Linked DNA regions of Homo sapiens: region 2 is linked to region 1. The links come from fine-mapping of genetic effects on gene expression. A gene starts in region 1. The other region holds a variant in brackets. All regions are shown on one strand. Distances are between the middles of the regions. Region 1 holds the start of SLC6A16 (solute carrier family 6 member 16). Region 2 overlaps SLC6A16 (solute carrier family 6 member 16).

Evidence for each region. PIP is the estimated chance that this variant, and not a neighbour inherited with it, causes the effect.
Region 2: its variant is fine-mapped to the expression of SLC6A16 in whole blood (TOPMed, PIP above 0.99).

What each region holds. Positions count from the first base shown.
Region 1 is chr19:49,314,938-49,331,361 of GRCh38, reverse strand. SLC6A16 (solute carrier family 6 member 16) reads left to right here and starts at 6,171. Exons shown (of 12, transcript NM_014037.3): 1 at 6,171-6,314. RefSeq lists a silencer at 3,913-4,064 and an enhancer at 4,858-5,007.
Region 2 is chr19:49,278,866-49,295,289 of GRCh38, reverse strand. It overlaps SLC6A16 (solute carrier family 6 member 16), which reads left to right. Exons shown (of 12, transcript NM_014037.3): 8 at 737-923; 9 at 1,262-1,463; 10 at 1,908-2,067; 11 at 4,523-4,685; 12 at 4,898-5,652. The coding sequence ends at 5,167. Among named protein-coding and RNA genes, the nearest start is that of MIR4324, 22 kb to the left of the region's middle. The variant C/T (reference allele first, on the strand shown) is at 7,962.

The DNA of each region.
Region 1 (16,424 bases):
AATTAACAAAAAAATTAGCTGGGCTTTGTGGTATGTACCTACAGTCCCAGCTACTCAGGAGGCTGAGGTGGGAGGACTGCTTGAGCCTGGGAGATCGAAGTTGCAGTGAGCCGTGATTGCACCACTGCACTCCAGCCTGGATGACAGAGCAAGACCCTACAGGGGAAAAAAAAGTGGAACACCAGGAGCTACCAGAAACTGAAGAGTCAAGGAAGGATTGTCCTCTGAGCCTTTGAAGGAAGTGGCGTGCTGACACCTTAATTTCGGACTTTTGGCATCCAGAACTGTGAGATAATATATTTTTGTTGCTTTAAGCCACCAAGTTTGTAGTAATTTATACAGCAGTCTCGGGAAGCGAATATACCTGCTCAATCAGAAACTCTGGGGGCGGGCCTGGCAATCTGTTTTTTTTTTTGTGTTTTTTTTTTGTCTCACTCTATTGCCCAGGCTGGAGTGCAATGGCACAACCTCGGCTCACTGCAACCTCTGCTTCCCGGGTTCAAGCGATTCTCCCGCCTCAGCCTCCTGAGTAGCTGGGATTACAGACACCCACCATCATGCCCAGCTAATTTTTGTATTTTTAGTAGAGACAGGGTTTCACCATGTTGGCCAGGCTGGTCTTGAACTCCTGACCTCAGGTGATCTGCCCACCTTGGCCTCCCAAAGTCCTGGGATTACAGGCAAGCCACTGCACCTGGCCTGGCAGTCTGTGTTTTAACAAGCCTTCCTGGTGACTGATGTGCACTAACGTTTGAGAACAGCAATTCTACCCATTGAATTCACCTGATCCCCTCCTCCTTTACTGGCAAATTCCCTCTTGCTTTTCCTCCTTCCTTCTTCACTGGCTGGTTCTCCTCAATCTTCATTGGATCGTCCTTTTTCTAGCTTCTAAAATTTGGGGAGTCCTAGCCCTTTCTAGCTACACTCACTCACGAGATGATATCATGCAGTGCCATAGTGTTCATCGCAATCTACAATACTGTTGACTTACCAATTTATATGCCTAGCCTCAAACTTTCCCCTGAACTGCGGACTCAGGAAGATTCATTTCCCAGGTCTCCTTGCAGTGAAGGACAACTTAACCTCTGCCTTTGGCTGTATAATTGACATCTCAAACTTAACACGCCCAAAACGAAACTATTGATTCCCTCCCACCTCCTGCACACTCCAGTACTTTCCTTTTCAGTAAATTGTCACTCCATCTTCCAATTCTTCAGGCCCAAAGTTTTGGAGTCTTTTTTTTTTTTTTGAGGTCTTGCTCTGTCACACAAGTGGGAGGGCACTGGCACGATCATGACTCATTGCAGCCTCAATCTCCTGGGCTCAAGTGATCTTCCCACTCAGCCTCCTGAGTAGCTGGGACAACAGATGCGTGCCACCACACCTGGCTATTAAAAAACACTTTTCTTTCCTTTAAGAGACAAGGCCGGGCTGGGCACGGTGGCTCACGCCTGTAATCCCAGCACTTTGGGAGGCCGAGGCGGGCGGATCACGAGTTCAGGAGATCGAGACCATCCTGGCTAACACAGTGAAACCCCCGTCTCTACTAAAAATACAAAAAATTAGCCAGGCGTAGTGGCGGGCGCCTGTAGTCCCAGCTATTCGGGAGGCTGAGGCAGGAGAATGGTGTGAACCTGGGAGGCAGAGCTTGCAGTGAGTGGAGATCGCACCACTGCACTCCAGCCTGGGCGACAGAGCGAGACTAGACTGTCTCAAAAAAAAAAAAAAAAAAAAAAAAAGACAAGGCCTTGCTATGTTGCCCAGGCTAGTATCCTACTATCAAACTCCTAGCCTCAAGCAATCCTCCCACCTCGCCCTTGCAAAGTGCTGGGACTACAGGTGCAAGCCACCGCTCCCGGCTGAGTCATTCTTGATTCCTCTCTTTCTCTCAGACCCCAAACCTAATCACCATTAGTTTTCTAATGCTCTGTAACAAATTACCCCAAATTTAGCAGTTTAAAACAATAAACATTTCTTAGGCCAGGAGCGGTGGCTCACTGTAATCCCAGCACTTTGGGAGGCTGAGGCAGGCAGATTACGAGGTCAGGAGTTCGAGACCAGCCTGACCAACATAGTGAAACCCCGTCTCTACTAAAAATACAAAAATTAGCTGGATGTGGTCCCACCTGTAGTCCCAGCTACTCGGGAGGCTGAGGCAGGAGAATTGCTTGAACCTGGGAGGCGGAGGTTGTGGTGAGCTGAGATCGCACCACTGCACTGCAGCCTGGGCAACAGAGCAGGACTCTATCTCAAAAAAAAAACACAATAAACATTTCTTACCTACTGTAGTTTTTGTGGGTCAGGAATCTGGGAGCAGCTTAGTTGGATGATTTCTGCTCACAGTGTTTTATGAGGTTGCAGTCAAGATGTTGGCTGGGGCTGTAGTCATCTGGAGATTTAACTACGGCTGGAGGATCCACTTCACCATGGTTCACTCACCTGGTGCTGGTTGCTGGCAGGAAATTTCAGCTCTTCTCTTATATGGATCTCTTCACAGATTGCTTGAGTGTCCTCACCGTATGGTGACTGGCTTCCTTTACAGAAATCAGTTGAAGGGAATGGGCAAGTAAGAAACAGCAATGCTTTTTATGACCTAGTCCTGAAGTTCCCCACCATTACTTATGTTCATTGGAAGCCAGTTGCTAAGGAGAGCCTGCACTCAAAGATTGGGGAAATAGACTTTATCTTTCAAAGTGTTGAAGAATTTGCAGACGTATTTTAAAACCACCACACAATCCATCAACACATCATGTCGGCTCTATTCTTGAAATAGATCCAGAATTTGACCACTTTTCACCATCTCCATTGCTATTACCCAGATCTAATCAACACCATCACTTGCCTGGACTAGAGATTTCCTCCTCACTGGGCTCTCTGCTTCTATCTTTAGCCCATTGCTATGATTTGGCTGTGTCCCCACCCAAAATCTCATCTTGAATTATAATCTTCATAATCCCCATGTGTCAAAGGAGAGACCAGGTGGAGGTAACTGAATCATGGGGGTGGTTTCCCCAGGCTGTTTTTGTGATAGTGAGTGAGTTCTCATGAGATCTGATGGTTTTATAAGGGGCTCTTCCCTCCTTTGCTTGTGAAGAAGGTGCCTTTTTTCCCCTTTGCCTTCTGCCATGATTGTAAGTTTCCTGAGGCCTCCCCAGCCAAGCTGAACTGTGAGTCAATTAAACCTCTTTTCTTCGTAAATTACCCAGTCTTGAGCAGTTCTTTACAGCAGTGTGAAAACAGAGGAATACACCCATACATGCTATTCTCTGCCCAGAAGCCAGGGGGAGCCTGCCATTAAAATGAAAGTCACTCCTTGACTCAGAACCCTCAAATAGCTTTCATCTCACCCAGAAAAAAAAGAAAAAAATTCCGACCATGACCTATAAGGGCCTCCAAATAATACTCTGGCCCCTGCCACTGCTCTGATCTGATCTGTTGCTACCCTTTCCTCAATCACTGGGATCCATTCATATCAGACTCTTTGCCATTTCCAGAACCCATCAAGTGTACTTCTTGCCTCAAGGCTTTTGCTGTTGCCATTTTCTTTGCCTGGAATGTTCTTCCCTATGCTGTTCACAAGGCTCCCTTCCTTCAGCTCTCTGCTGAAATATCACTTTCCCCAAGAGTCCTTCTTGACTACCCTGTCTAAAGTAACTCCCTATCAGCACTCTTACTCTCTGAAATTCTTTCTATTTAGGCATTTACTTTCTTTGTGCAACTGGAACGTAAAATCTTTTTCATAACTATATCCCAGGGGTCTAGGACAGTGTGGGGCACATCATTCAATAAATATTTATTGACCGACTGAGACTTTTCCTGGTGCCTTGAACACACAGTTTGCCCTGCCTCAGGGCCTTTGCACAGCCTCAAGGCTTGAGATGTTCACACACATTTTTCACCTAGCAAATAATCCTTTAAGCCTCAACTCCAGTGTTATTTCCTTAGAGAAATCCTCCTTCTAAATTAGGTCTATGGGCCGGGCGCAGTGGCTCACGCCTGTAATCCCAGCACTTTGGGAGGCTGAGGCGGGCGGATCACCTGAGGTCAGGAGTTCAAGACCAGCCTGGCCAACATGGCAGGCTGACTCTACTAAACCCTGACTCTACTAAAAATATGAAAATTAACCAGGCGTAATGGCAGGCACCTGCAACCCCAGCTACTCGGAAGGCTGAGGCAGGGAGAATTGCTTGAACCCGGGAGGCAGAGGTTGCAGTGAGCCGAGATTATGCCACTGCACTTCAGCCTGGGTGACAAAGTGAGATTGTCTCAAAAAAAAAAAAAATTCGATAGAAATAAATAGGTCTGTGGCCCTTTTCTGTCGCAGCACTTTTTTTTTTTTCCTTGAGACAGGGTCTTACCCCATCACCCAGGCTGGAGTGTAGTAGTGTGATCTTGGCTTACTGCAACTTCTGCCTCATGGTTTTAAGTGATTCTTGTGCCTCAGCCACCCGAGTAGCTGGGATTACAGGCGTGCACCACCACACCTGGCTCGTTTTTGTATTTTTAGTAGAGATGGGGTTTCACCATGTTGGCCAGGCTGGTCTTGAACTCCTGGCCTCATGTGATCCGCCCACCTTGGCCTCCCAAAGTGCTGGGATTACAGGCGTGAGCCACCATGCCCGGCCTGTCATAGCACTTAATACAATTTATAATCATGTAATTATTTGAGATTCATCATATATCTGTTTTCTTGTTGTGTGAAGCAAAACGAGGGCAGGAATGGGGTCTGTTTTGTTCTCTACACTATTCCCAGTTCCTAGCATTTAGTAGACTCTCGATAAATACGTGTTGAAAGATTGAATGATTCCCAAAGATTGTGATGAATTCTTACAGCACCCCCAAAATTTCCTCTTCATCTCTTTGTTCAATCATAACAATTTAAGCCTTTCATTCTCAAAGTGTGGCTCAGGGACTCCTGGGGGCTCTTGAAACACTTTTGGGGGTCCATGAGGTGAACATTATTTTCATAATACTACTAAGATATTATTTGCCTTTCACTTTCATTTCCTCTTTGAATATAGTGATGTTTGCCAGAAGCTACAAGACATGAGCTATTTTGACACACTCAGTGCAGAAGCAGATATGAGAATCCAGCTGTCTTCTATGAAGCCAGACATTAGAGAGATTTGCAAAAATGTAAAATGATGCCATTCTTCTCCCCAAATTTTTTCTTTTTTTTCCTTTTTTTTTTTGAGACGGAGTCTTGCTCTGTTGTCTAGGCTGGAGTGCAGTGGCAAAATCTCGGCTCATTGCAACCTCTGCCTCCTGGGTTCCAACGATTCTCCTGCCTCAGGCTCCCGAGTAGCTGGGATTACAGGTGTGTGCCACCACGCCCGGCTAATTTTTTTTTTTTTTGACTTTTAGTAGAGACGGGGTTTCATCATGTTGGCCAAGCTAGTCTCGAACTCCTGACCTCGTGATCCACCCGCCTTGGCCTCCCAAAGTGCTGGGATTACAGGCGTCAGCCACCGCGCCCAGCGCCAAAATTTCTTTTGGAGTAGAAATTATAGTTATTTTAAATAAAAATGTTATTTTGACACATAATGAATTTTTAAACAATGACTATTTTAGAAATTTATTTTAATATTGATAGATACAACTCACATAAACATACAACCCATATAAATGTAACTCATAAATTATTGGAGTCCTTAATAATTCTTAAGAGACCGGAAAGTATGAGAACGGATGACCTAAGTAAATCTTTGAGTTTTTAATTCTTGTCTGCAGCCCTAGTAGGCTTCTGAGCTCTCTTAAGGCAACGTCCCTGTCTGCCTTGTTGGACGCATATTTAAGGTTTGGTTTCTAGTAGGCGATCTTTAAGTAAATGCGAAAGGTTTGAAGGCTAGAAGGAATGAATGAGACGATTCTCCCACTTCCTACCCTCTTCTTCCTTACATGAAGTGGAAGCAAAGTGCATGTGCCAGAGAAAGGCCTTGTCTTAGAGCCCCGCCTGAAGCGTGGCATCGTGGGTGTCGGGGTGGGGTGCGGTGGGGAAGGGAGTGGCGCGTGAGCAGTCAGAGGATGTGCACACGTGCGTGCGTGTGGGGAGAGAGCAGGGAGTTGGGGAGGGCGAAGTGGTTACAGTGTTTGCTACAGCTGTAGGGAAAGAGTGAGGGGGCGCGGCGGCGCATGCGCAGAGAATCGGCGGGAAAGGCCGCGCGCCAGGCAGATCGAGGGGTGTCGCCCAAACCGATCTGTCGACGCCTGAAGGGGCCTGAGGAGATTGCTAGGCTTCTCAGCTGGGGCTTCTTCACCCTCATTTTTGTCCGACTGGCTGGACTGAAGAACCTGGCAGAAGCCTTGGGGCTAGGGTGAGGGTCACGGCCCAGGGAGCCCTAAAATGTTCCCACATCTGGGGTGTGTGGGGCTGGGCGCCATTTTCGAGGCCCGGGCCCACTGGGCTCCACTGACGGGTGACAGGTGACTGGCTGGGAGCCTCCTGGTTGCCCTGGGCTCTGTGGAGCTGAGGGATCAAAGGGGTCCCTCCTTTACCCCCCACGTAGGACAGAGGAAACTGTCTTCGGCTCTCCTCACTCATCCAGTCCGAGTTTGAGCCAATTCCTTGACAGGATTCGGCCATCAGTCCCTGCCTTTGGGGAAAGCCATCAGTGTCAAGTGCCCGAGTGGCAGAAACCCGGGTCTAGCCCCATCACTGGTCTGTTAGGGCAGTTATTTTCTGCTTTTTGCAGAAATGGGACACCAGCTCCTTATTTTCCTTTTCTGGAGGTTATAGTTCCAGGGAAGGAGGTAATGTGAGGGGAATGGGCATTTCTGGGGGATCCTGAGCACTCCCCACAGGGCATGAGCCTAGGAGTTGCTTGGGATGACGGTGTAGGGGCACCATGGAGGGTTGCACCCATATGGGAAGAGGAGTCCGCCTGGGGCTCAAGGGGCTTTATGGATGTTGGAAGTGGCCAGCTGGCCAAAACTCAGTTCTCTCCCTTCCGTAAAGCTTGCTTTTAAGGACAACTGTTCTAGAATGTGTTTAAGAAACATGAATCTATTATTTTTTATTTATTTATTTATTTGAGATGGAGTCCCACTCTGTCACCCAGGCTGGAGTGCAGTGGCACGATCTCAGCTCACTGCAACCTCTGCTTCCCAGGTTCAAGCGATTCTCCTGCCTCAGCCTCCCAAGTAGCTGGGACTATAGGCGTGCGCCACCACCCCCAGCTAATTTTTTGTATTTTTAGTAGAAACGGGGTTTCACTGTGTTGGCCTGGCTGGTCTCGAGCTCCTGACCTCAGCCGATCCACCCGCCTCAGCTTCCTAAAGTGCTGAGATTACAGGTGTGAACCCCCGTGCCCAGCCTATTATTATTATTTTTAAGAGACAGGGTCTCTCTCTGTCTCCCAGGCTGGAGTCCAGTGGCATGATCACCTCTCACTACAGCCTCGAACTTCTGGGCTCAAGCAATCCTTCCACCTCAGCCTTTCAAAGAGCTGGGATTACAGGCTGAGCCACTGGAGGCTTGGTTTTCACTTATTTTGGGTGTATACCCAGAAGTGGAATTGCTGGATCATATGGTAATTCTATTTTTAAGTTTTTGAGGAACCACCATAGTGTTTTCCATGGTGGTTGCACCATTTTACATTCTGACCAGCAAGGCACAAGGATTCCAATTTCTCCACATCCTCACCAACACTTCTTATTTTCTGCCTTTTTATATTAGCCATCCTAATGGATGCGAGGTATTATCTCATTGTAGTTTTCATTTGCATTTCCTTAATGATTAGTGACGTTGAACATCTTTTCATGTACTTCTTGGAGATTGGTATATCTTCCTTGGAGAAATGTCTATTTAAGTCTTTTGCCCATTTTTGAATTGTGTTGTTTGTTTCTTTGTTGTTGAGTTTTACGAGTTCTCTATATATTCTGAATATTAATCTCTTATTATACATATGATTTTCAGATATTTCCTCCCATTCTGTGGGTTATCTTTTCACCCCTTTGATAGTGTCTCTTGATGCACAAATTTAAAACATTTTAATGAAATCCTGTTTGTTTCTTCTTTTGTTGCTTTTGCCTTTGGTATCATATCCAAGAATTCATTGCAGATCCACTATCATGAAGCTTTTGTCGTATGTTTTATTCTAAGAATTTTATAATTTTAAGTGTTACATTTAGGTCTTTGATTTATTTTGTGTATTTGTATGTGGTGTTAGGTAAGAGTCCATCTTTACTCTTTTGCCTGTACATAATCCAGTTTTCCCAGCACCATTTGTTGAAAAGACTGTCCTTTACTCATTGAGTAGTCTTGGCACCCTTGTAAAAAATCATTTTTCCATACATTGTTTCTGGGCCCTCTATTCTGTTCCCTTGGTCTGTATCTTTATGTGAGTAACACACTATTTTGATTACTATAGCTTTGTAATATGTTTTGAAATCAGGAAATGTGAGTACACCAGCGTTTTTCTTCTTTTTCAAGATTATTTTGGCTGTTCAGGGTCCCTTGAGATTTCATGTTAGTTTTAGGACGTGTTTTTCTATTTCTGCAAAAAAAAAAAAAAAAAAAAAAAAAAAAAAAAAAAAAAAAAAAAAGCTACTAATTCTGTAGATTGCTTTGGGTAATACTGACATCTTAACAGTGTTGTCTTCCAACCCATGAACATGGGATATTTTTCCATTTATTTATGTCTCCTTTAATTTTTTTCAGCAATGTTTTGTAGTTTTCTTTGTACATGTCTTTCACCTTCTTGGTTAATTCTTTTTTTTTTTTTTTTTGAGATGGAGTTTCACTCTTGTTGCCCAGGTTGGAGTGCAATGGTGCAATCTCGGCTCACTGCAACCTCTGCCTCCCAGGTTCAAGTGATTCTCCTGCCTCAGCCTCCTGAGTAGCTGGGATTACAGGCATGTGCCACCATGCCTGGGTAACTTGGTAATGGAAACGGGTTTTCTCCATGTTCGTCAGGCTGGTCTCGAACTCCTGACCTCAGGTGATCTGCCCACTTTGGCCTCCCAAAGTGCTGGGATTACAGGCTTGAGCCACCGTGCCCAGCCAAGTTAATTCTTAAGTATTTTATTCTTTCTGATGCTATTACAAATGGAATTGTTTTCATAATTTTCTTTTCAGATTGTTCATTGTTAGTGTATAAAAATGCAACTGAGTTTTGATTGTTGACTTTGTATCCTGCTACTTTGCTGAATTCATTTATTAGCTCAAAAATTTTTTTGGTGAAAATTTTAGGATTTTCTACGTATAAGATCATATAATCTTTCTAGTTTGGTTTCCTTTTATTTATTTATATTTTTGCCTAATTTCTCTGGCTAGGACTTCCAGTACTATGTTGAATAAAAGTGGCAAAATTAGACATTCTACGCTTGTTTCTAATCTTAGAGGAAAAGCTTACAGTCTTTTATCATTAAGTATGACATTTGCTGTGAGTTTTTCGTATATGGCTATTATGTTGGGATATTTTCCTTTTTTTTTTTTTGCTGAGACATGGTGTCACTTTGTGACCCAGGCTGGAGTGTAGTGGTGTCATCATGGCTCACTGTAGCGTTGACCTCCTGGGCTGAAGTGATTCTCCCATCTCAGCCTCATGAGTAGCTAGGACTACAGAAGTACATCAACACACCCAGGTAATTAAAAATTTTGTTTGTTTGTTTGTTTGTTTGTTTTTGAGATGGAGTCTTGCTCTGTCACCCAGGCTGGAGTGCAGTGGTATGATCTTGGCTCACTGCAACCTCTGCCTCCCAGGTTCAAGCGATTCTCCAGCCTTAGCCTCCCAAGTAGCTGGGACTACAGGTGCACACCACCACATCTGACTAATTTTTGTATTTTTAGTAGAGATCAGGTTTCACCATGTTAGCCAGGCTGGTCTTGAACTCCTGACCTCAGGTGATCCACCCGCCTTGGCCTCCCAAAGTGCTGGGATTACAGATGTGAGCCACTGCACCTGGCCCCAGGCTGGTCTTGAACTCCTGGGTTCAAGTGGTCATCAGGCCTCCCAAAGTGTTGGGATTACAGGCATGAGTCACCATGCCCAGCCGTATTTTCCTTTAACTCCTAGATTGTTGAGTTTTTTTTTTTTTTTTTATCATGAAAGGGTATTGAGTTTTGTCAAATGTTTTTTCTGCATCAGTTGAGAGAATCATTATTTTTCTTTCATTTTGTTAATGTGGTATATTATATTGATTGATTTTTGTATGCAGAACCATCCTTGCATTCCAGGAATAAATCCCACTTGGTCATGGTATATAATCCTTTTAATATGCTGCTGAATTAGGTTTGGTAGTATTTTTTTTGAGGATTTTTGCATCAAAGTTCATAATGAATATAGGTCTGTAGTGTTCTTTTCTTATAATGTCTTTGTATGGCTCTGGTATTAGGGCAATGTTGGCCTTATAGGATGAATGAGGAAGTGTTCCCTCCTCTCCAATTTTTTGGAAAAGTTTGAGAAGGATTGATATTAATTCATTAAAGGTTTAGTAGAATTCACCCATGAAGCCATCAGGTCCAGAGCTTTTCTTTGTTGAGAGATTTTTGATTACCAATTCAATCTCCTTACTAGTTATAGATCTATTCAGATTTTCTGTTTGTGATTTAGTCTTAGTAGATTTGTATTTCTAGGAATTTGTCCATTTAATCTAGGTTATCCAGTTTATTGGTGTACAGTTGTTCATAAGTTCATAGTACTCTCTTATAATCCTTCTATTTCTGTAGAATTGGTAATAATGTCCCCATTTTCATTTCTGGTTTTAATCATTTGAGTCTTCTCTTTTTTTCTTAGTACATCTAGTTAAAGGTTTGTCAATTTTGTTGATATTTTTAAAGAAACAACTTTTGGCTTCTCTATTGTTTTTCTATTCTCTATTCATTTCTGCTTTAATTTTTATTATTTTCTTCTGCTAGCTTTGGGTTTAGTTTGCTTTTCTAGTTTCTTAAGTTTTAGAGTTAGGTTATTGATTCAAGATCTGGTTTTTTTTTGTTTGTTTGTTTGTTTGTTTTTAGAGGGAGTCTTGCTCTGTTGCCCAGGCTGGAGTGCAGTGGTGTGATCTCGGCTCACTGCAACCTCCGCCTCCTAGGTTCAAGCGATTCTCCTGCCTCAGCCTCCTGAGTAGCTGGGATTACAGGCGCCCACCACCATGCCTAGCTAATTTTTGTATTTTAATAGAGATGGGGTTTCACTATGTAGGTCAAGCTGGTCTTGAACTCCTGACCTCAAATGATCCACCCACCTCAGCCTCCCAAAGTGCTGGGATTACAGGCGTGAGCCACTGCATCCGGCCTCTTTTTTGTTTTTTAATGTAACCATTGATAGTTATAAATTTCCCCCTTGGCATTGCTTTTGTTGCCTCCCATAAATTTTAGTATGTGTGTTTTCGTTTTCATTTATCTGTAAGTATTTTCTAACTCCCCTTGTAGTTTATTCTTTGATCCATTGGTTGTTTAAGAGTGTGTTGTTTAATTTCTACAAATTTGTAAAATTTTCAATTTTACTTTTGTGATTCATTTCTAACTTCATCCTATTGTGGCTGGAGAAGATATTTTGTATGATATTTATCATTCTAATTCTATTGAGAAAAAAAGGAAATTTGTGGCCTACAAATTTGTGGTCTCTCCTGGAAAATGTCCCATGTGCACTTGAGAAGAATGTGTATTCTGCTGCTGTTGGCTAGAGTGTTCTGAATACATCTGTTAGATCTGGTTGGTTTATTGTGTTAAGTCCTCTATTTCCTTGCTTATCTTCTGTCTGCTGCTTCTGTCCATTGTTCGTAGTGGGGTATTAAAGTCTCCAGTTATTATTGTAGAACTGTCCTTTTATCCTTTCAATTATGTGAGTCTTTTCTTGATATATATATGTATATGTATATATCGTATAGGTATATGTATATACATATACACATATACACATATATGTATAAGTATATGTATATACATATACACATATACACATATGTATATGTATATGTATTTATATGTATATACAAATATATATATATACACACACACATATATGAAGGAATTAGGGAGGAGTAAAGAAGAGTACTTGGTCAACATACAGCAGGTTCATCTCATTGTACAAATGTAAGTTTCTCAAGCTTCAGTTCTATGGGCATCTGGCTTGTTGGAAAATTGGCCTGGTTTCATTTTCCCATCCTCCCTTTATTTTGGACCTCCAGTTACACATTTTAGGCCATTTGATATTGTCTCACAGTCACTAATGCTCTGGTAATTGTTTTCAGTCTTTTTTTTTTCTTTGTGCTTCATTTTGGATTGTTTCTATTGCTATATCTTTAAGTTCACTGATTTATTAAAATCTGCCAGTAATCTTCAGTGAAATTTTCATTTCAGGTGTTGTATCATCTCTAGAAGTTCTATTTGATGTTTAAAATATATCATGGCTAGGCATGGAGGCTCATGCCTGTAATCCCAGCACTTTGGGAGGCCATGGTAGCTGGATCACATGAGATCAGGAGTTCGAGACCAGCCTGGCCAACATGGCAAAACCCTGTCTCTACTAAAAAAAAAAAAAAAAAAAAAAAATAGCCAGTTGTGGTGGTGCACACCTGTAATTCCAGCTACTTGGGAGGCTGAGGAAGGAGAATTGCTTGAAACTTGGAGGCAGAGGCTGCAGTGAGCTGAGATCAGTGTGGGCAACAGAGTGAGACTCTGTCTCAAAAGAGAAAATATCTATCTGTCTGTCTAGCTAGCTAGCTATCTAGCTATCTTATATTCCTCATTCTGTTCATGTTTTCCTTTTAAGTCCTTGACCATATTAAGCATATTTGTAACAGCTATTTTAGTGTTATGGTGTGTTAATTCCATTAGTCTATCATTTCTGTTTTTGTTGTCTGATTATGGGTCACTTTTCCTGCTTTTTTGCATGTCTAGTAATTTTTGACTAGATGGTTGACATTATGAATTTTTTGTTGTTCAGTGCTAGGTTTGTCTGTATTATCTTAAGGAATGTTGGCCTTTGTTGTGACAGGCAGTTAAGTTACTTGAAGATCAGTTTTGGCTGTTTAAGGGTTGCTTTTAAGAATTTTTTTTTTTCAGGTCTAAAGTAGTCCTACTACTAGAACTAGAGCTAGTTTATGCCACTTTAAATGTTCCAAGTATTCAGTAAAGTCTCTCCACACTGGCTGATGGAAACTTGAGTAATTCTTGTTCTTCTCCAAGTTCTAGGAATTGTTTTACCTGTAGTTCCCCAGTACTTTTCTTTCCTTGGAATTTATTCTTTGCCTGTTCTTATGAGGTTTCATACTATACATGTGCAGGTTGATATTTAGCTAATGGCTCGAAGGTACTTTATCCAGATTCCTAGAGCTCTTTCTCTGTGGCTCCCTTCTGTTGAGTACTTAGCCCAGCTAATTCTAGTCACCTAAGCCTTCCTGAACTGACTTTTGCCTCCTCAAGTGCTGAGACTGCCAGGCTCTGTTTGTATTCTTCCTCCTGTGCCAAAGTTTGGAAATTAGCAGAAAAATGGGGCAATCGTGCAATTAGTTACCTTGTTTTCTGGCCTTTTTTTAGAGATTGCAATGCTGTACTGCCTTTGTTTAATATGTGAAAATAGTTGTTTTAATTATTTGTACAGTTTTTTTTTTTTGAGACGGAGTCTCGCTGTGTTGCCCTGGCTGGAGTGCAGTGGTGCGATCTCTGCTCACTGCAAGCCCCACCTCCTGGGTTCACGCCATTCTCCTGCCACAGCCTCCCGAGTAGCTGGGACTACAGGCGCCCGCCACCATGCCCGGCTAATTTTTTGTATTTTTAGTAGAGATGGGGTTTCACCATGTTAGCCAGGATGGTCTTGATCTCCTGACCTCGTGGTCCGCCCGCCTCGGCCTCCTAAAGTGCTAGGATTACAGGCGTGAGCCACGGCGCCTGGCCTATTTGTACAGTTTTGTAGTGTTTTTGTGGAGGTAACTCCAGACACTGTTTTGCTTTCATGGTCAAAAGTGGAAATTTCTTCTCCCCATTTTTATCTGGATCCTGTATATCCTTCATTTCTATGTTTTCTTAAAATTATCTTTTAATTAATTAATTTTATTTTATTATTATTGTTATTATTTTTGAGATAGGGTCTTACTCTGTTGCCCAAGCTGGAGTGCAGTGGTGCAATCTTGGCTCACTGCAACCTCCCCCTCCTGGATTCAAGTAATTATCTCACCTCAGCCTTCCGAGTAGCTGGGGCTACAGGTGTGTCCCACCATGCCTGGCTAATTTTTGTATTTTTTGGTAGAGATGGGGTTTCACCATATTGGCCAGGCTTGTCTTAAACTCCTGACTTCAAGTGATCCTCCTGCCTTGGCTTCTCAAAGTGCTGGGATTACGGGCATGAACCACTGCACCTGGCCTATTTTATTTTATTTTTTTAGAGAATGAGGTCCCACTCTGTTGCTCAGGCTGGAGTTCAGTGGTGTGATCATAGCCCACTGCAACCTTGAACTCCTGGGCTCAAGCGATCCTCTCCACTTAGCCTCCCAAATAGCTGGGACCACTGGCGTGTCCCACTATGCCTGGCTAATTTTAATTTTAATTTTTTTTTTTTTTTTTTGGTAGAGATGGGTTTTCACTGCATTGTCAAGGCTTATCTTGAATTCCTGGCCTCAAGTGATCCTCCTGCCTTGGCCTCCCAAAGTACTAGGATTACAGGCATGAGCCACTGTGTCTGGCCTATCCTTCATCATTCTTGTTCTTGTATTGCTCAATTTGGCTTTACTCACAGGAATTTCTCCTCATTGTGGCCTCTGGGTTGGAAAAGATCCCTGGTTGGTTAATTTTAAGAGTTCATAGAATCTAGTCTGCCCTGGTCCCTTCAGTTTCTATTGTTGACTCCATGCACTCAACTGTTATTGGATTAGGCAAGACATCTTCTAGTTTTAGCTGCTGTTCTCTAATAGCCTTCCCATGATTTCTGGTGAGTACCTGTTGATTATTTTGAGAGACTGGTTTCCCTGTCCCCCATCCCCAGGTCTGTCAGATGCTCTCTTGCTTCCTTTGTTTCCTCCCACACAGATGCTGATTCTATACAGGTCTGTGGCTCTTGTGGTTTGTTCTCATAGACTTGTCTTTTGGGGTTTATCTTGATATTGTAAATATTATCCATGGATTTTGGGCTTGCAATCTAGTAGAACTACTTGTTTTCATGTGAGTATTTGGGAAGATTTTAAAACAATGTTGCTGTTATTGCCATTACCTTCCCAGGATTTTACTCTATATTTAAAAAATTATTTTATAAGTGGCATTATTATTTTAAAATTTTATTTTCTAATTATGTATTGCAAGCATAGACATATAAATAATTTTCATTTATTGCTGTTTGCATCCAACAATCTTGCTAAATTATCTTATTAATTTAAATAATTTATCTGTAGTATTCTGGATCTTCCACATAGATATATCATCTGTGAATAGTGAGTTTTGTTTAATCTTTGTCTTTTATTCCCCTTGCTTTCCTGTGTTGTCTAAAATATTTAATGCAATGGGAAGGAAGTGCTGATAGCTGGTTTCATTGATTGTTCTTGATTTCAAAAGGCAAGCTTTCTTCACTTCATTATTAAATATGTGCCTATGTTTAAGCATATGTTCACTATTAAGTATAATCTTTTTTTTTTGAGAGACACCATTTATCAGGTTAGGGAAATTATTCCTGGTTTGCTAAAAGTTTTTCTCCGTAAATCATCATTGTATTGTATGTTTTTCCTATATCTCTTGAGATGATAATATTTTTCTTCTTTATTATATCAATGTGACTAATTATATTGATTTTCTCTAGTGGTATGCTTTGAATCATCTCTACTGAGTTTTTTGCTTTGTAGTTACCACGAAGCTTACATAAAACATCTCCTGCCTCAGCCTCCCAAAGGGCTGGGATTACAGGCATGAGCCACCATGACCAGCCCCAAAGGCTGGATTTTTGTACCTAATTTTTTCTTCAGCCTTTTCTTCCCTGCATGATTTTCTGCTTCTCTCTTAATGTTATGGAAGCATCATTTGTCTCAGGGAGACGCCCATCAACCCACCAATAACTCCAATAAATCCAATAACAGAGGAGTGGCCCACCTGCTGTTGCATTCTCTGGCATACAGCTTCTGGAAGCTGTTGGTTCACTGGAGCAGAAGGTCTTTGGCAAGTGATTGTTTTTATTTCCCACAAGTTGCTGGGAAAGTATTTACTTACTTCCTGAAACACTGAACCACTTCATCAGGAAAAAGAGATGTGAACTGACTCCTCAGTGATTACAGTTTGGTCCTGTTTCTTGTTTATGTAGCAGAAGTTTCTCTGTTTTTGACATGAGGATGGAACCTATTTTTCAGAAATGATGCAGATATCCCCATATTTGTAATATTTTAAAATCATTGGTTTTTTTTTTTGTTGGGTAGGGGGAGATTGTGGGTAAGTTTGGAGATTGGTGTTCATGTGGCTATCTTAGAAGAAACTTCCTTTTGTTTTGATGGTGAATTGTAGGAGTGGC
Region 2 (16,424 bases), 36 kb after region 1:
TCCTGCCTCAGCCTCCCGAATAGCTGGGACTACAGGCACGTGCCACCATGCCCAGCTGATTTTTGTATTTTTAGTAGAGACGGGGTTTCACCATGTTGGCCAGGATGGTCTCGATCAATGAGCTGAATTTTTAAGGGTTTGTAGGAGTTAGCCAAGTGAAGAATGGTGGTGGGGGTGGAGTTGGTATTGTGTGTGATGGGGTATGATGGGCCCTGACACGGTAAGTAGTTAAATCTGGCCAGAACATGGAATGTGAAGAGGGCCGTAGGGACATATGAGGCCAAAATGGTCAGCAGGGCTCACATCAAAAAGTCGAACAAGCAGTTGCTGCCACACAGCACGACTCCATGGGACATTATGATCATAGTCTGTGTGCTCCCGGACATGCTGTAATAGGAACTTTAGAAAGTTGGCTCTTACCCGTTAGTCTCAGTGGAGAGGGAAGGTAGACAGCGTATAAGAAATCCCATCACTAGAGCAGAGACCACAGAGTCCCCAAGAAGACTGTAGAAAATGCTTCTCCTAGGCTCTCCCATGGTCATAAATTCTCCAGGATTACACAAACGAATTCACGTCCCTGAAGGCGGGTGCCTTCTAGGATTCATCCCAGGCTCTATCTTACCCAGATCAGTAATGCTAAGCCAGTGATAGCCTTTTTTATCTTGAAGATAAGGGAAAAGGAGACTATCTCCTACTGGGCCAAATGGTTCGATTTGATTCAACCCTCTATCCCCAGGAATGCTGAAATACTTTTAAAGCTGATAAACCTAGGGAAACTGCCTCCTGATGCCAAGCCCCCTGTCAACCTGCTTTACAACCCAACCTCCATCTACAATGCCTGGCTCAGTGGCCTTCCCCAGCACATCAAAAGCATGGTTCTCCGCGAGGTGACTGAGTGCAACATAGAGACTCAGTTTCTTAAGGTCAGTAAACATAGCTGAGGGGGGAGCCTAGAGTTCCTGAAAGCCTTTAGCACAACAGAAATTTTAGCTTTTATTAGCACCAGCAAAAATCCCGGAAGCACCAGAATCATCTGTGGCTCTCAGTAATACAAAGTACTATACTTTGCGGAATGGCCTTCCATGGATAATGCTAGGTGGATTGATTTTCCATGTCAGGGGGTTAGCTTGGACATCTGATTTTCTCAGTGATCCAGGGATTTTCAGGAGTTTTCCAGGGAAGATAGAATGTATACTTGTCTATATTTTTTTGTTATTGTTTAGTTCAATGACACTTTAACACCTCTTTGTTCTCTTTGCAGGCTAGCGAGGGCCCAAAGTTTGCATTCCTGTCCTTTGTTGAAGCCATGTCCTTCCTTCCTCCGTCTGTCTTCTGGTCTTTTATCTTCTTCCTGATGTTGCTGGCCATGGGGCTGAGCAGCGCAATAGGGATTATGCAGGGCATCATTACTCCACTCCAGGACACCTTCTCTTTCTTCAGGAAACATACAAAGCTGCTCATAGGTACTCTGACCTAGGCCCTACTCCTAACAATGACCCTGACCCCTGACACCACTGGGACTCTTTTTTTGGGACAGGGTCCCTGTAGCCCAGGCTGGAGTGCAGTGGTGTGATCTCGGCTTACTGCAACTTCTGCCTCCTGGGTTCAAGTGATCCTCCCACCTCAGCCTCCCCAGTAGTTGGGACCATAGGCGTGCATCACCACGCCCGGCTAAGTTTTGTAGCTTTTGTAGAGACGGGCTTTCACCATGTTGCCTGGCTGGTCTCAGACTCCTGGGCTTAAGGAATCTGCCCACTTAGGCTCCCCAAAATGCTTGGATTACACATGTAAGCCCCCTCGCCCGGCTACCACTGGGTCTGCCACCAGCCCTGGTCTATGGCCTCTACTTAGCCCTTGTCACCCAGCCGTGACTTCTAACCTTGATCCAGATCTCATGTTTTCTCCAGTGGGAGTCTTTTTGCTCATGTTCGTGTGCGGCCTCTTCTTCACTCGACCTTCAGGCAGCTACTTCATCAGACTGCTGAGTGACTACTGGATAGTCTTCCCCATCATCGTCGTTGTCGTATTTGAAACCATGGCTGTATCCTGGGCCTATGGGGCCAGGAGGTGATGTCCTAAGCCCAGGTTCTCACAAAGCATGGGACTATAGGGAAGGGTGACCCCTTTTTTGTTGCCTCTACTGTCAACCCACCTAGTGTGACATAGGGACCCTTAAGTTCAGAGTCTTCTGGGAAATCTTTTTATTCATTCATCCATTTTCACATATATTTTGGGTGCTGAATATGTGCCAGGCACTATTTTAGTCATCAGGGATAGGGGCATTGAATAAAAGAAGTATTCCTATTCTCAGAAAGCTTACATTTTAGTGGTCTAGAGAGACAATAACCAGATTAGCAAATAAAGAATAAAAACGTTGAGAATAAATACAGGCGATAGGAAGAATCAAAGGATGAGGTCAGATGGCACATAGTGGGAGTGTGTGTGGGCACCAAGTCACATACGACTTCAGGGAGGGCCCTTCCGATAAGGTGACATGTGAGCAGACTCCTGAATGATAGGAGGGAGGGAGTCATGACAAGATTTTGAGTAAAGTGCTCCCTGCAGGGAAACAGAAATTACCAAGGCCAGAGGAAGCATAATGCCTAGAGTTTTTGAGAAACAAGGAAGTCAGAGAGGCTGGAATAGAAGATATTAGGAGATGGGGCTAGAGAAGTGATGGTGGCCAAGTCATGTAGGGTTTTGTAAGCCACGATAGGACTCAGCTTTGTATGCAGAATGGCAGATGAAGCATTGGAGGGTTTTGAGTAGGAGAATGACATTTTCAGGTGGGAGTGCCATTATTAGATTTGTTTTTTAAAAAGGTATTTATGGCTGCTGTCTGGAGAACAGACCAGGAAGAGTCAAGAGTGAAGCCAGGATAAGAGTTGGAAGCTATGTAATATTTCTTTTTTTCTTTCTTTTTGAGATGGAGTCTTGCTCTGTTGCCCAGGCTGGAGTGCAGTGGTGCGATCTCAGCTCACTGCAACCTCCGCCTCCCGGGTTCAAGCAATTCTCCTCCCTCAGCCTTCTGAGTAGCTGGGATTACAGGCATTCACCACCACGCCCGGCTAATTTTTGTATTCTTAGTAGAGACGGGGTTTCACCATGTTGGCCAGGCTGGTCTCGAACTCTTGACCTCGTGATCACCTGCCTCAGCCTCCCAAAGTGCTAGGATTACATGCGTGAGCCACCCCGCCTGGTGAAAGCTATGTAATATTTCAAGTGAGAGCTAAGAATGGCTTGGTCAAAAGTAGAAGAGTTGTGGATTAAGAGAAGTGGTCTGATTCTGGAAGGTAGAGCTACCTGGGAAAGAGAACAAGATAATCTGGGAGTGAGACCTGGAAGATATAGCTGTGGAATGTAAGTCTATAGTAGAGGTAGCCAGGGCAACTCCGGGGGCACAGATGGTTAGTTAAGGAAGACTGGAGAGTTGGGGAAGGTGGCCTAGAGGAGAGGATGCTTGAGCAGAGCCTGGACAGATGAATAGGTGGAGATAGGGTGATGGGCACCCTAGACCAAGAGACCCCACTTGTATATTTATTGAGATTGAGAATATGTACTAAAGGAGACTGGATAGTTGGCTGAAATAAACTAGATAAGTTTCCCAAGGGCCAAATGCCACTTTCTTTTATCTGTGTTCAGTGCTGGATATCCAGCACTTAGAAGAGTTCCTGGTATAATTCAGGGGTGAAAGCCTCAGCATTTTCATCTGATAGTGGTTCTTGGAGTCAGTTTGCTCACTTATGGACTCATTTATTAACTCACCCAACAAACATTTTCTTGAGACTTTGTGTCAGGAAAGCCTTGTGGTACTGGGATATGAATGACTTACATTGAGATACTCTTCTCAAAGAGCTCAGAGTCCAAAGAGAAAGACGTATATAAGCAGAAAATCCCAGTACCCGGTGGTAAGTCTATAGTAGAGGTAGCCAGGGAAACTCCGGGGGCATAGATGGTTAGTTAAGGAAGACTGGAGAGTTAGGGAAGGTGGCCTAGAGAAGAGGATGCTTGAGCAGAGCCTGGACAGATGAATAGGTGGAGATAGGGTGATGGGCACCCTAGACCAAAAGACCCCACTTGTATATTTATTGAGATTGAGAATATGTACTAAAGGAGACTGGATAGGTGGCTGAAATAAACTAGATAAGTTCACCAAGGGCCAAATGCCACTTTATTTTATCTGTGTTGTTCACTGCTGGATATCCAGCACTTAGAAGAGTTCCTGGCACATCATAGACATTCTCATATTTATGGGATGAATGAAAGAGACTTGGCCTTTCTCCTGAGGCCATTGGATACCCATGGAAAGTTCTTGAGCAGGAGAGGGGTGTTTGGAAAAGTTTCTTGGGTTAGGATAGAAGACAGACTGACTAGGGGGAAGATGAGAGAGGACAAGACTTGAGATGAAACAGGAGATTAGAGATACAATAGAATGTTTGAAAGATGCCAAGGTTGGGCTGGCCCTGCCTCCAAGGTGGTGAGGCCTAACTGGGCATCCCACACTCTGGTGGCCCTTCTCCAGGTTCCTTGCAGACCTGACGATCCTGTTGGGCCACCCCATCTCTCCCATCTTTGGTTGGCTGTGGCCCCATCTGTGTCCAGTTGTGCTGCTAATCATCTTTGTGACCATGATGGTTCATCTTTGTATGAAGCCGATCACCTACATGTCCTGGGACTCAAGCACCGTGAGCCTCCCCCAGGACCCAGAACCCCTTTGGGAGTAGGGGCCAGACCTTTCAATTCACTCTGGGTGAAAGAACCCAGTCATCTCATTCTCTTACTGCCCGAAGACTCATGGGTTTTCTGCTTTGGTTCCCCACCCATCCTTCCCCTCCACAACTCTTCCTTTTCTCTTGGGGATTTTGATATTCTGAACCCTTTTCCCATCTCTCCACAGTCAAAAGAGGTGCTTCGACCATACCCACCGTGGGCACTGCTCTTGATGATCACCCTTTTTGCCATTGTCATCCTCCCCATCCCTGCATACTTTGTATACTGCCGCATACATAGGATTCCCTTCAGGCCCAAGAGCGGAGACGGGCCTATGACAGCCTCCACATCCCTACCCCTAAGTCACCAGCTAACACCCAGTAAAGAGGTTCAAAAGGAAGAAATTCTACAAGTTGATGAAACAAAGTACCCATCAACTTGTAATGTGACTTCCTAACTTCATTAATTTGGCTTCACATAACATATCCCTTAGAACAGATCCAATAGACAACTCTTAATATCAGCTTGCAACTGTTGATCTCCCTGGATCCAGAACCACTTTTATTTCCAAGAGGAGGGGCATTCTTTGGGGGTGTTCATGGGGCCTGGACTTGCAATCCCTTCCTGGGTCCCATCTTACCTGGTGACCACCATCATTGTTTTCCCCATCCTCTTCCTCAACACACATACATGCACAACACATATACAATACTAGTGATGTCTACCAGTCCTGCTACTTCTGGGGTGCCTGTCTCCTGGAATGGAGCTGGAGGAGCAATGCTGTTGGTGAATAAATCAGTCTACTGGAACTCCAAGGACTGGATGTAAGCAGATCTTTTTTTCCTATAGATGTCTCAGATGTTCAGTTTTCCTGTCACAAGGCTTCCAGTCTGTATTAGTTCATTTTCACACTGCTAATAAAGACATACCTGAAACTGGGAACAAAAAGAGGTTTAACTGGACTTACAGTTCCACATGGTTGGGGAGGCCTCAATCATGGTGGGAGGTGAAAGGCATTTCTTACATGATGGCAGCAAGAGAAAAAAATGAGGAAGAAGCAAAAGTGGAAACCCCTGATAAACCCATTAGATCTCATGAGACTTATTCACTATCACGAGATTAGGATGGAAAAGACCAGCCCCCATGATTCAATTACCTCCCCTGGTTCCCTCCCATAACACGTGGGAATTCTGGGAGATATAATTGAAGTTTATATTTAAATGGAGACACAGTGAAACCATATCATTCTGCCCCTGGCCCCTCCAAATCTCATGTCCTCACATTTCAAAAGCAATCATGCCTTCCCAACAGTCCCCCAATGTCTCAACTCATTTCAGCATTAATCCAAAAGTCCAGAGTGTCATCTGAGACAAGGCAAGTCCCTTCCACCTATGAGCCTGTAAAATCAAAAACAAGCTAGTTACTTCCTAGATACAATGGGGGTACTGGTATCAGGTAAATACAGCCATTCCAAATGAGAGAAATTGGCCAAAACAAAGGGGTTACAGGGCCCATGCAAGTCCAAAATCTAGCAGGGGAGTCAAATTTTAAAGCTCCATAATGATCTCCTTTGACTCCAGATCTCACATCCAGGTCATGCTGATGCAAAAGGTGGGTTCCCATGGTCTTAGGCAGCTCCACCTCGTGGCTTTGCAGGGTACAGTCCCCCTTCCAGCTGCTTTCACGGGCTGGTGTTGAGTGTGGCTTTTCCAAGCTCAGGGTGCAAGCTGTCAGTGGTTCTACCATTCTGGGGTCTGGAGGACAGTGGCCCTCTTCTCACAGCTCCACTAGGCAGTGCCCCAGTAGGGACTCTGACTCTGTGTGAGGGCTCTGACCCCACGTTTCCCTTCTGCATTTCCCTCCCTGGCAGAGGTTCTGCATGAGGGCTCTGCCCCTACAGAAAACTTTTGCCTGGACATCCATGCATTTCCATATATCTTCTGAGATCTAGGCGGAGGTTCCCAAACCTCAATTCTTGACTTCTGTGCACCCGCAGGCTCAACATCACGTGGAAGCTGCCAAGGCTTGGGGCTTCTACTCTCTGAAGCCACAGCCCGAGCTGTACGTTGGCCCCTTTCAGCCATGGCTGGAGTGGCTGGGACACAGGGCACCAAGTCCCTAGGCTGCACACTGCATGGGGACCCTGGGCCTGGCCCACAAAACCACTTTTTCCTCCTGGGCCTCTGGGCCTGTGATGGGAGGGGCTGCCATGAATGTCTCTGATATGGCCTGGAGACATTTTCCCCATGGTCTAAGGGATTAACATTAGGCTCCTTGCTACTCATGCAAATTTCTGCAGCTGGCTTGAATTTCTCCTCAAAAATGGATTTTTCTTTTCCACTGCATCATCAGGCTGCAAATTTTCTGAACTTTTATGCTGTTTCCCTTTTAAAACGGAATGCTTTTAACAGCACGCAAGTCACCTTCTGAATACTTTGCTGCTTAGAAATTTCTTCTGCCAGATACACTAAATCATCTCTCTCAAGTTCAAAGTTCCACAAATCTCTAGGGCAGGGGCAAGATGCCACTAGTCACTTTGCTAAAACATAATAAAGAGTCATCTTTGCTCCAGTACCCAACAAGTTCCTCATCTCCATCTGAGACCACCTCAGCCTGGACCTTATTGTTCATATCAGCATTTTTGTCAAAACCATTCAGTAGGTCTTCAGGAGGTTCCAAACTTTCCCACATTTTCCTGTCTTCTTCTGAGCCCTCCAAACTGTTCCAACCTCTGCCTGTTACCCAGTTCCAAAGTTGCTTCCATATTGTTGGGTATCTTTTCAGCAACACCCCACTCTACTGGTACCAGTTTACTGTATTAGTTTTCATGCTGCTGATAAATACATACCTGAAACTGGGAACAAAAAGGTTTAATTGGACTTACAGTTCCACATGGCTGGGGAGGCCTCAGAATCCTGGCGGGAGGTGAAAGGCACTTCTTACATGGTGGTGGCAAGAGAGAAAATGAAGCAAAAGTGGAAATCCCTGATAGACCCATCAGATCTCATGAGATTTATTCATTATCATGAGACAGCATGGAAAAGACCAGCCCCCATGATTCAATTACCTCCCCCTGGGTTCCTCCCACAACACATGGGAATTCTGGAAGATACAACTGAAGTTGAGATTTAAATGGGGACACAGCCAAACCATATCACAGTCTTTCTAAAGCTAAATGTCCAGCCCTGAGTTCCTGCCCTCCCCTTGCTCTGGCAAACTCAGATACTAGATTACCAGGCTTGCATTATCCA[C/T]GGGCTGGCCTTTAGCCAAGGGAAACCTGGGAAATGGTGACTTCAACAAAGATGGGGAAGATATTAATGTGCTTGCTACTGATACATGATAATCCTATTATAGGTCTAAAATTATTTCTAAAAAGAGGTTGCACTCAAGGTTTGAACATTGTGTTGTGGACTGAGTACATCTGTAAATCAGTGCCACAACCAGTTACTAACAAGCTGTTTCACTGAGCTCACCAAGAGTCCCATTTCTGCTCAGTACTGGGCACCACTGGTTTTTATCCCAGGGTCAAATCAACTGAACTTGCCCAGTGGATGATCACTGAGTGGGTCTTTAAGAACTTGTGGGAGGGTAGTGCCATGAGGGTGCTGAAGTACTCCCCAAAAGGAGACTGGGGGGCCTGTCAGTTACCTGCTGGGGATGGGGGCTGTGGACAGAGGTGATTGGGATTCCCAAAGATCCAGGGAATGGGTTTCCCTTAAATGCTCAGAGATCTCAGGCTTTTAGATTGCTTAGAGCCCACGGGTAAGTTTCAGTGATAAAGGAAAAGAAGACACCCCCAACCATTGGCAGGCAGGACTCAAGAGGTGGATCTGCAGAAAGGAAAGAGCAGAGGCATCTGAAGTTTCCAGACCTCTGAAGTCTGGCTCTTCAAGCTTGAAGATAGGAGGGCTGGAGGGGCGTGCACCTCTGTGTCATCACCCATTGGCTCCTGTGCCCTATTAGGCCAGCCCATCCACCCCCCAAATTCCAAATGCTCTATCTGCTTGAAGACTTGCACTATTGAATCGGGTAATGTGGGGATGGGAGAGAGAAGGCGGTGGGCTCCTCCTTCTCATCAAATAGTCTGGGTCTTCAACCTCCTCCCTTTTGGGAACCAGGGCACTCATCCTCCCTTCTGCCTCAAGGCCCCTCCCACCTACCTCCCCACCATCCCCGGTCCAGTTTTGGAGGTGGAACTTGGGAGAGGGGGATTGAAAAGTAGGGGCTTACCATCTCAAAGAAAGAAAGAAAAAATATTTTATTTCTCTCTTAGTGTGTTTCCCTCTCTCTCTCTCTCTCTCTCTCTCTCTCTCTCTTTCTTTCTTTCTTTTTTGACAGAGCCTTGCTCTGTTGCCCAGGCTGGAGTACAGTGTCTCGGTCTTGGCTCACTGCAAACTCTGCCTCCTAGGTTCAAGCAATTCTCCTGCCTCAGCCTTCTGAGTAGCTGGGATTACAGGGGTGCACCACCACGCCCAGCTATTTTTGTATTTTTAGTAGAGACAGGGTTTCACCATGTTGCCCTGTCTCTAGACAGTCTCGAGACAGTCTCGAGAGTCACATGTAGCCCTGTCTCGAGAGTTGCTGGTCTCGAACTCCTGACCTCATGATCTGCCCATTTTGGCCTCCCAAAGTGCTAGGATTACAGGCGTGAGCCCCTGCACCCAGCCTTTTTTTTTTCTTTTTTTTGAGACAGTCTCGCTCTGTTGCCCAAGCTGGAGTGCAGTGGCACGATCTCGGCTTACTGCAACCTCTACCTCCTGGGCTCACGCGATTCTTATGTCTCAGCCTCCCAAGTAGCTGGGATTATAGGCGCACACCACTGTGCCCAGCTAATTTTTGTATTTCTAGTAGAGATAGGGGTTTTGCCATGTTGGCCAGGCTGGGCTCGAACTCCTGGCCTCAAGGGATCCGCCCGCCTCAGCCTCCCAAAGCGCGTGAGCCACTGCACCTGGCCTAATTCTGCTTTCTAATTTGCATCCCTGACATGCGGGACGCTTCAATAGGGATGGCGCCACGTTCAAGAGGCTGAAGAAGAGACCCAGGGCTAGCAAACGAGAAATAGGGTTTATTTGAGATAACTTACAGGGTGATCCAGTGGTGATGAGCTGGACAGGAGAACCACACCCACTTGCAAAATGCATGCAGTTTATATGGCACTTTCACTCAGCACCCTCCCCCAGCAACCTCCATGCGGCAGCCCTTATCCTCAGGGTGTGCTTAAGTTATTGCTGCCAGGTGCGTCTACCATATACCCTCACTCCAGCATACCCACCTTGCTGTGTTTTTTTTGTTTTTGTTTTTCATTTTTCTGAGACGGAGTCTCACTCTGTCGCCAAGGCTAGAGTGCAGTGGTGCGATCTTGGCTCACTGCAACCTCCGCCTCCCAGGTTCAAGTGATTCTCCTGCCTCAGCCTCCTGAGTAGCTGGGATTACAGGTATGTGCCACCACACCTGGCTAATTTTTGTATTTTTAGTAGAGATGGGGTTTCACCATGTTGGCCAGGCTTGTCTTGAACTCCTGACCTCAAGTGATCCACATGCCTCGGCCCTCCCAAAATGCTGGGTTTACAGGCGTGAGCCACTGCGACCTGGCCACTCTAGCATACCTTTGAATGGCCCTCACATTCTTGTACCGTTCTTCCACCATTTCCCTGGGGCCAGGTATGCGGAGGAGCATTGCAGCCAGACACCACAGCAGCAATACAAACTACAACAGAAAAAATAATGAATATAAAAGTGGCTTCAGGTACTCAGGTTAACTGCTGCGAGGCACCACGGCAGGCCCGCAGTGGAGGAGAGGGGCAGCTCTCTGCAGACCCAACAGTCTGTTTTGTTCTGGAGAGAGACCACCGTCTGTGCTCAGCTGGCAAGAGGTTTGCTGCATACCATCTATGGGTGAAAAGTGAGATGTTTAGTGAGTACAAGAAGGGGCAAGTCATGGTCATTTTTTTCTTTTTGAGACAGAGTTTCACTCTTGTTGCCCAGGCTGGAGTGCAGTAGCTGGATCTCGGCTCACTGCAACCTCCGCCTCCTGGGTTCAAGCGATTCTCCTGCCTCAGCCTCCCAAGTAGCTGGGATTATAGGCGCCCGCCATCATGCCCAGCTAATTTTTTGTTTTTAGTACAGGTGGCGTTTTGCCATATTGGCCAGGTTGGTCTCAAACTGCTGGCCTCAGGTGATCCACCCACCTCGGCCTTCCAAAGTGCTGGGATTACAGGCATGTACCACTGCACCCAGCCTCATGGTCATTTTACAAGAAACAGGAAGTTGTGTCCTTCTGAGACAGCATCACCCCGAGAGTGGCCTGGTGCTTGGTTTGCAATACCAAATAGGTTGGCCCCCTCTCTACAAAGTGTCACATGAGGCTGGAGTAAGACAATAGGGATATTATGCAGTGTGGGCATCCAGACGCTAGACTGTTACATGCATCCCCCAGGTGCAGTGGAGAATGTTCTTCTATATCAGCCCCCCAAAGGGGGCTGCCTGCTACCATCCAATCCTGTGTTTCTCCTTGTAGTAGGCACATGGTGGGCCCCTTAAAGATGGTGCCCAGATGTCAGTGCACAGGACTGTTGGGTCCGGCTCCTAGAAGAAACCATCCAGGCAGCTCAGCCCATTGGCTACATGTCCTTTGCCTGTATCGAGCCAGATACTCTCAGTGGACAGCTGGATACAGGTGGAAGGATTGCCTCGTGACAAGCCATCTGTGTACCAGGCCTGGTCAGGAATTGGGGCCTGTCCCTCTTATATAAAGGAGGGAATATGTGGAGGCTCAGTGCCTTGTCAAAGACTGTCCTTCAGCTGTCACATAGGTGACAGGGCCAAGCAGCAAACGGAACCCTGTGCTAGTTCGTGTACTCCTCTGTTGCAGGCATGCGTGCCATTTGGCCACAATCTGTTTCTGGGCATTCCCAGATTTTGGTTTCTGGAAGGTGTCCTACTTTCGACTAGGATAAAGGCTAAGGCCTCAGGATCCCGATAAGAGCAATGGTGGCTGAGTGTCTGGAGACTGGCGGCCACATATAGAGCTAGCTAACTATATATTGGTCACCTAAGAATGCACAGGCTGGCTGGGCGTGGCGGCTTACGCCTGTAATCCCAACATTTTGGGAGGCCAAGGTGGGCGGATCACCTGAGGTCAGGAGTTTGAGACCAGCCTGGCCAACATGGCAAAACCCTGTCTCTACTAAAAATACAAAAATTAGGTGGGCGTGGTGGCGGGCACCTGTAATCCCAGCTAACCTACTATGGGGTACTGGGTATGTACTAGCATGGGAACCCCTTTGGAACATCTTCCACTTGCTGTAAGGCATAACACGTAGTGCAGAATTATAGCTCCCTGACACTGTAACTTCAGTCCCCTTCCATAGCTGGAACCAGAATCCTAAAGGTACAAGTTTGTGTCCTTGCCTTTGCCACTGGTCCCAGTTGGCCCCCTTCTTGACTAAGTGGTACAGTGGCCTAAGGAGTTGAGCCAAATGGGAAATAAAAGGACACCACGGCCTTAGAAGAACTAAGAAGGTTTGCAGCCACTTTGGTGGTGTAGGATGTGGGTAGGCCTGCACCATATGTAGAATGGCAAATTGAACACCGTTAGTCTTACCCAACCAGATGACACCAAGTATTGGACTGATAAGCCTGGACCCTGCCTTTGTCTGCATTGACCGCCCATCCTCTGTTAACCAAGTGAGACAGCAAGGTGAGGGCTATAGAGACTCAGAAGTTAGCTGGCAAAAGACTCAGAATTTAACATCAATGTAAAGGAAAACATGTACCCTCTCCAGGGTAGTCCATCTACTGAGGTCTGTGGCCACTAGGCGTTGACAGATAGTGAGGCTATGGAAATATCCCCGCGGCAAGACAGTAAAGGTATATTGTTCTCCTTCCCAGGTGAAAAGGTTAGGCTTTTTTTTTGAGAGGGAGTCTCGTTCTGTTGCCCAGGCTGGAGTGCAATGGCGTGGTCTCGGCTCACTGCAACTTTCGCCTCCCAGGTTCACACCATTCTCCTGCCTCAGCCTCCTGAGCAGCTGGGATTACAGGCGCCCGCCACCACGCCCAGCTAGGGTTAGGCTTTGTGTCCCCATCCAAATCTCGTCTTGAGTTGAAATCTCTATAATCCCCACGTGTCAGAGACACCAGGTGGAGGTAATTGAATCATTGGGGCGGTTTCCCCCATGCTGTTCTCGTGGCAGGGAGTGAGATCTCGCGAGATCTGATGGTTTTATAAGGGGCTCTTCCCCCCTTCGCCCGGCCTCGTGAAGAGGGTGCCTTTCTTCCCCTTTGCCTTCTGCTGTGATCGTAAGCTTCCTGAGGCCTCCCCAGCTATGCTGAACTGTAAGTCAATTAAACCTCTTTCCCTTATGAATTACCTAGTTTTGGGCAGTTCTTTATAGCAGCTTGAAAACGGACTAATATACCAGGTGAATGCAATGACAAAATGAGGTGCGTGCAGTCCCTCTCTTATCCTCATAAGAAAGGAGGCGATATGAGAACAGCTGCATACATTAGGGGGACGGCTTTGTTGAACTCCCAGTAATATGTCATTCTCCGTGTCCCATCAGGCATCCACATGGGCCATGCAGGGCTATTGTATGGGCTGTTCACTGGTCTTATAATGTCTACCCAGACTTCTTTCCTTTTCAGTCCCTATGATCTCATCATGACCTCCTGGCAGGTGTTGTCGTTTCTTTTTTCTTTTCTTTTTTTTTTTTTTTTTTGAGACGGAGTCTTGCTCTGTCGCCCAGGCTGGAGTGCAGTGGCACGATCTCAGCTCACTGCAAGCTCCGCCTCCCGGGTTCGCGCCATTCTCCTGCCTCAGCCTCCGGAGTAGCTGGGACTACAGGCACCCGCCACCGCGCCCGGTTAATTTTTTGTATCTTTTAGTAGAGACAGGGTTTCACCGTGTTAGCCAGGACGGTCTGGATCCTCTGACCTCGTGATCCGCCTGCCTCGTCCTCCCAAAGTGCTGGGATTACAGGCGTGAGCCACCGCGCCCGGCCAGGTGTTGTCGTTTCAATGCTGCTATTCACAGAGGGGCTGGCAGCTGTGCTGGTGTCCATTTCGCATTCCCCTTGATCACGCGCCTCACCATCCTAACTCAGTCGCAATTCAGAGGGTCACAGTCCTGATGAGACAGCCCTTCCCAAGATGTAATCTGGGATAGGAGCTCTGTATACTAAATAGGGTTTGGGCAGCAGTCTCCTAACTTGTAATACTAGCTCAACCTGTCTGACTTTCACGACCCCCGCCCCCACCGACCATCTATTGTTATAGGCCACTGGAACCACGGATGTCACCACATACGAGAGTGCATTCAGCTCCAGTATCCGCTGGGAACAGCCTGTACATTCTTGTTTTTTTGTTTCGTTTTGTTTTTGAGATGGAGTCTCACTCTGTCACCAGGCTGGAGTGCAGTGGCACGATCTCGGCTCACTGCAACCTCTACCTCCCGGGTTCAAGCGATTCTCCTGCCTCAGCCTCCAGAGTAGCTGGGATTACAGGTGCCCAGCTAACTTTTGGTATTTTTGGTAGAGACAGGGTTTCACCATGTTGGTCAGGCTGGTCTCGAACTCCTCACCTCGTGATCTGCCCACCTCAGCCTCCCAAAGTGCTGGGATTACAGGCGTAAGCCACCTTGCCTCCTGGATGCATTCTTGGTTTTTTGCCTTTTTTTTTTTTTTCTGAGACGGAGTCTCACTCTGTGGTCCAGGCTGGAGTGCAGTGGCACGATCTTGGCTCACTGCAACCTCCGCCTCCCAGGTTCAAGTGATTCCTATGAAGGGACTCAAGATAGACGCCAGTGTGCCACACCATTGGTAGTGTGCCTACTGTAAGATGGCATTTCTCATGCCCGCAGTGAAAAGCTCCTTGTCAGGGCCTCGGTAATGCTCAGTGTAGATAGCAAGCATCACCCCTAATTCCCAGAGGATGTCCCTCAATTCCTCCATAATCTGTCATCACAAAGGAGATGTGGGGACATTCCTTTCTTTCTTTTTGAGATGGAGTCTCGCCCTGTTGTCCAGGCTGGAGTGCAATGGCTCCATCTCAGCTCACTGCAACCTCCGCCTCCCGGGTTCAAACGATTCTTCTGCCTCAGCCTCCCGAGTAGCTGGGATTACAGGCACCTGCCACGACACCCGACTAATTTTTGTATTTTTAGTAGAGACGGGGTTTCACCATATTGGCCAGGCTGGTCTCAAACTCCCTACCTCATGATCCTCCTGCCTCGGCCTCCCAAAGTGCTGGGATTACAGGCCTGAGCCACTGCACCCAGCTGGGACATTCCTTTCATTTGGCCAGGCTGCCTTGCAGCTTGCAACCACCCGGCTAAGGAGGGGGTGGCCCGATCGTCATTATTGGTGCCATCGAGGCACCGCCTCAGGGCTGGATGGTTGGTGATGGATGCCATTTCACTCATCTCTGTTCCATGTCCCATAGACAGAGAAGCCACCCTGTGACCGACTCTCTGCCCTTCTTCCTGAACCTAGTTCCCAGCTCCACCAACTCCACAGCCGTGGAATCCCGCACTATGGTGTCTTCCAGGCAGGGGCAAGTCTTGCAGGGTGACCCCCTATGTCTGTGGTTGGTCGGCTTTCATCTTGGTGTTGACCAGCAAACGTGCAGAGAGGATGGGCACCTCCATGAGCTCATCCCAGGCCTCACTCTCTTCCCCACTAGAGCTCTCCATGGGGTCCCAGAACTTAGGGTCCCAGGATGATTTAGTCATGAGGGCCCTAACTCATTGACATAGCAGCCAGCAGCTTTTCAAATGGACCATACCTGACAAGCCAGGGTCTCTCCATTTTGTCATCCCGTGCCTGCAGGCAGGACAGTCGGTCTCTGATGTTTCAGTCTGATCTAATTAGGCATCTCTTTGTCATCGCAGTTCATCTTGTAATGGATGCACCTTCACCTGCGCCATGAGCCCGGCCCCCGAGGCTGCTCAGAGCACAGTCAGGAGTGGCCAGCCAACCGCAGCTGCCACAGCTCAGGCATCTAACTTTTGCTTAGTTAGATCCACCTCCTGCAATAGCTCTTCCAGACCCTTCAGTGTTTTGGGGGCATCTCTGTACCCATGCCTTGGGCCTCATCCATCAAGGATAGTGGCTGTTGGGCCCCACACAGACGTGGACAGCCAGCCCGAGATGCCCCCCGATGATATTCTCCTCTCCAATCCCATCGACTCTGCGTGCACAGGATTTTCTCCAACCTCCTGCTGGGATCATCGGTTGTCGTGCCAAATGCCTGTTAACTTCAGTAGCCATGGCACCAAGTTCAAGAGGCTGAAGAAGAGACCCAGAGCCAGCACACAAAACACAGGGCTTATTTGGGGGAACTTGCAGCATGGGCCAGTGGTGGTGGACTGGACAGGAGAACTACAACCATTTGCAAAAAGCATGCAGTTCAGGCCAGACTCGGTGGCTCGTGCCTGTAATCCCAGTACTTTGGGAGGCTGAGGCAGGTGGACCACTTGAGGTCAGGAGTTCGAGACCAGCCTGGCCAACATGGTGAAACCGTCTCTACTAATAATATAAAAATTAGCTGGGCATGGTGGCGGGCGCCTGTAGTCCCAGCTACTTGGGAGGCTGAGGCAGGAGAATCGCTTGAACTTGGGAGGCAAGGTTGCAGTGAGCTCAGATGGTACCACTGCACTCCAGCCTGGGTGACAGAGCGAGACTCTGTCTCAAAAAAAAGAAAAAAAAATGCAGTTCATA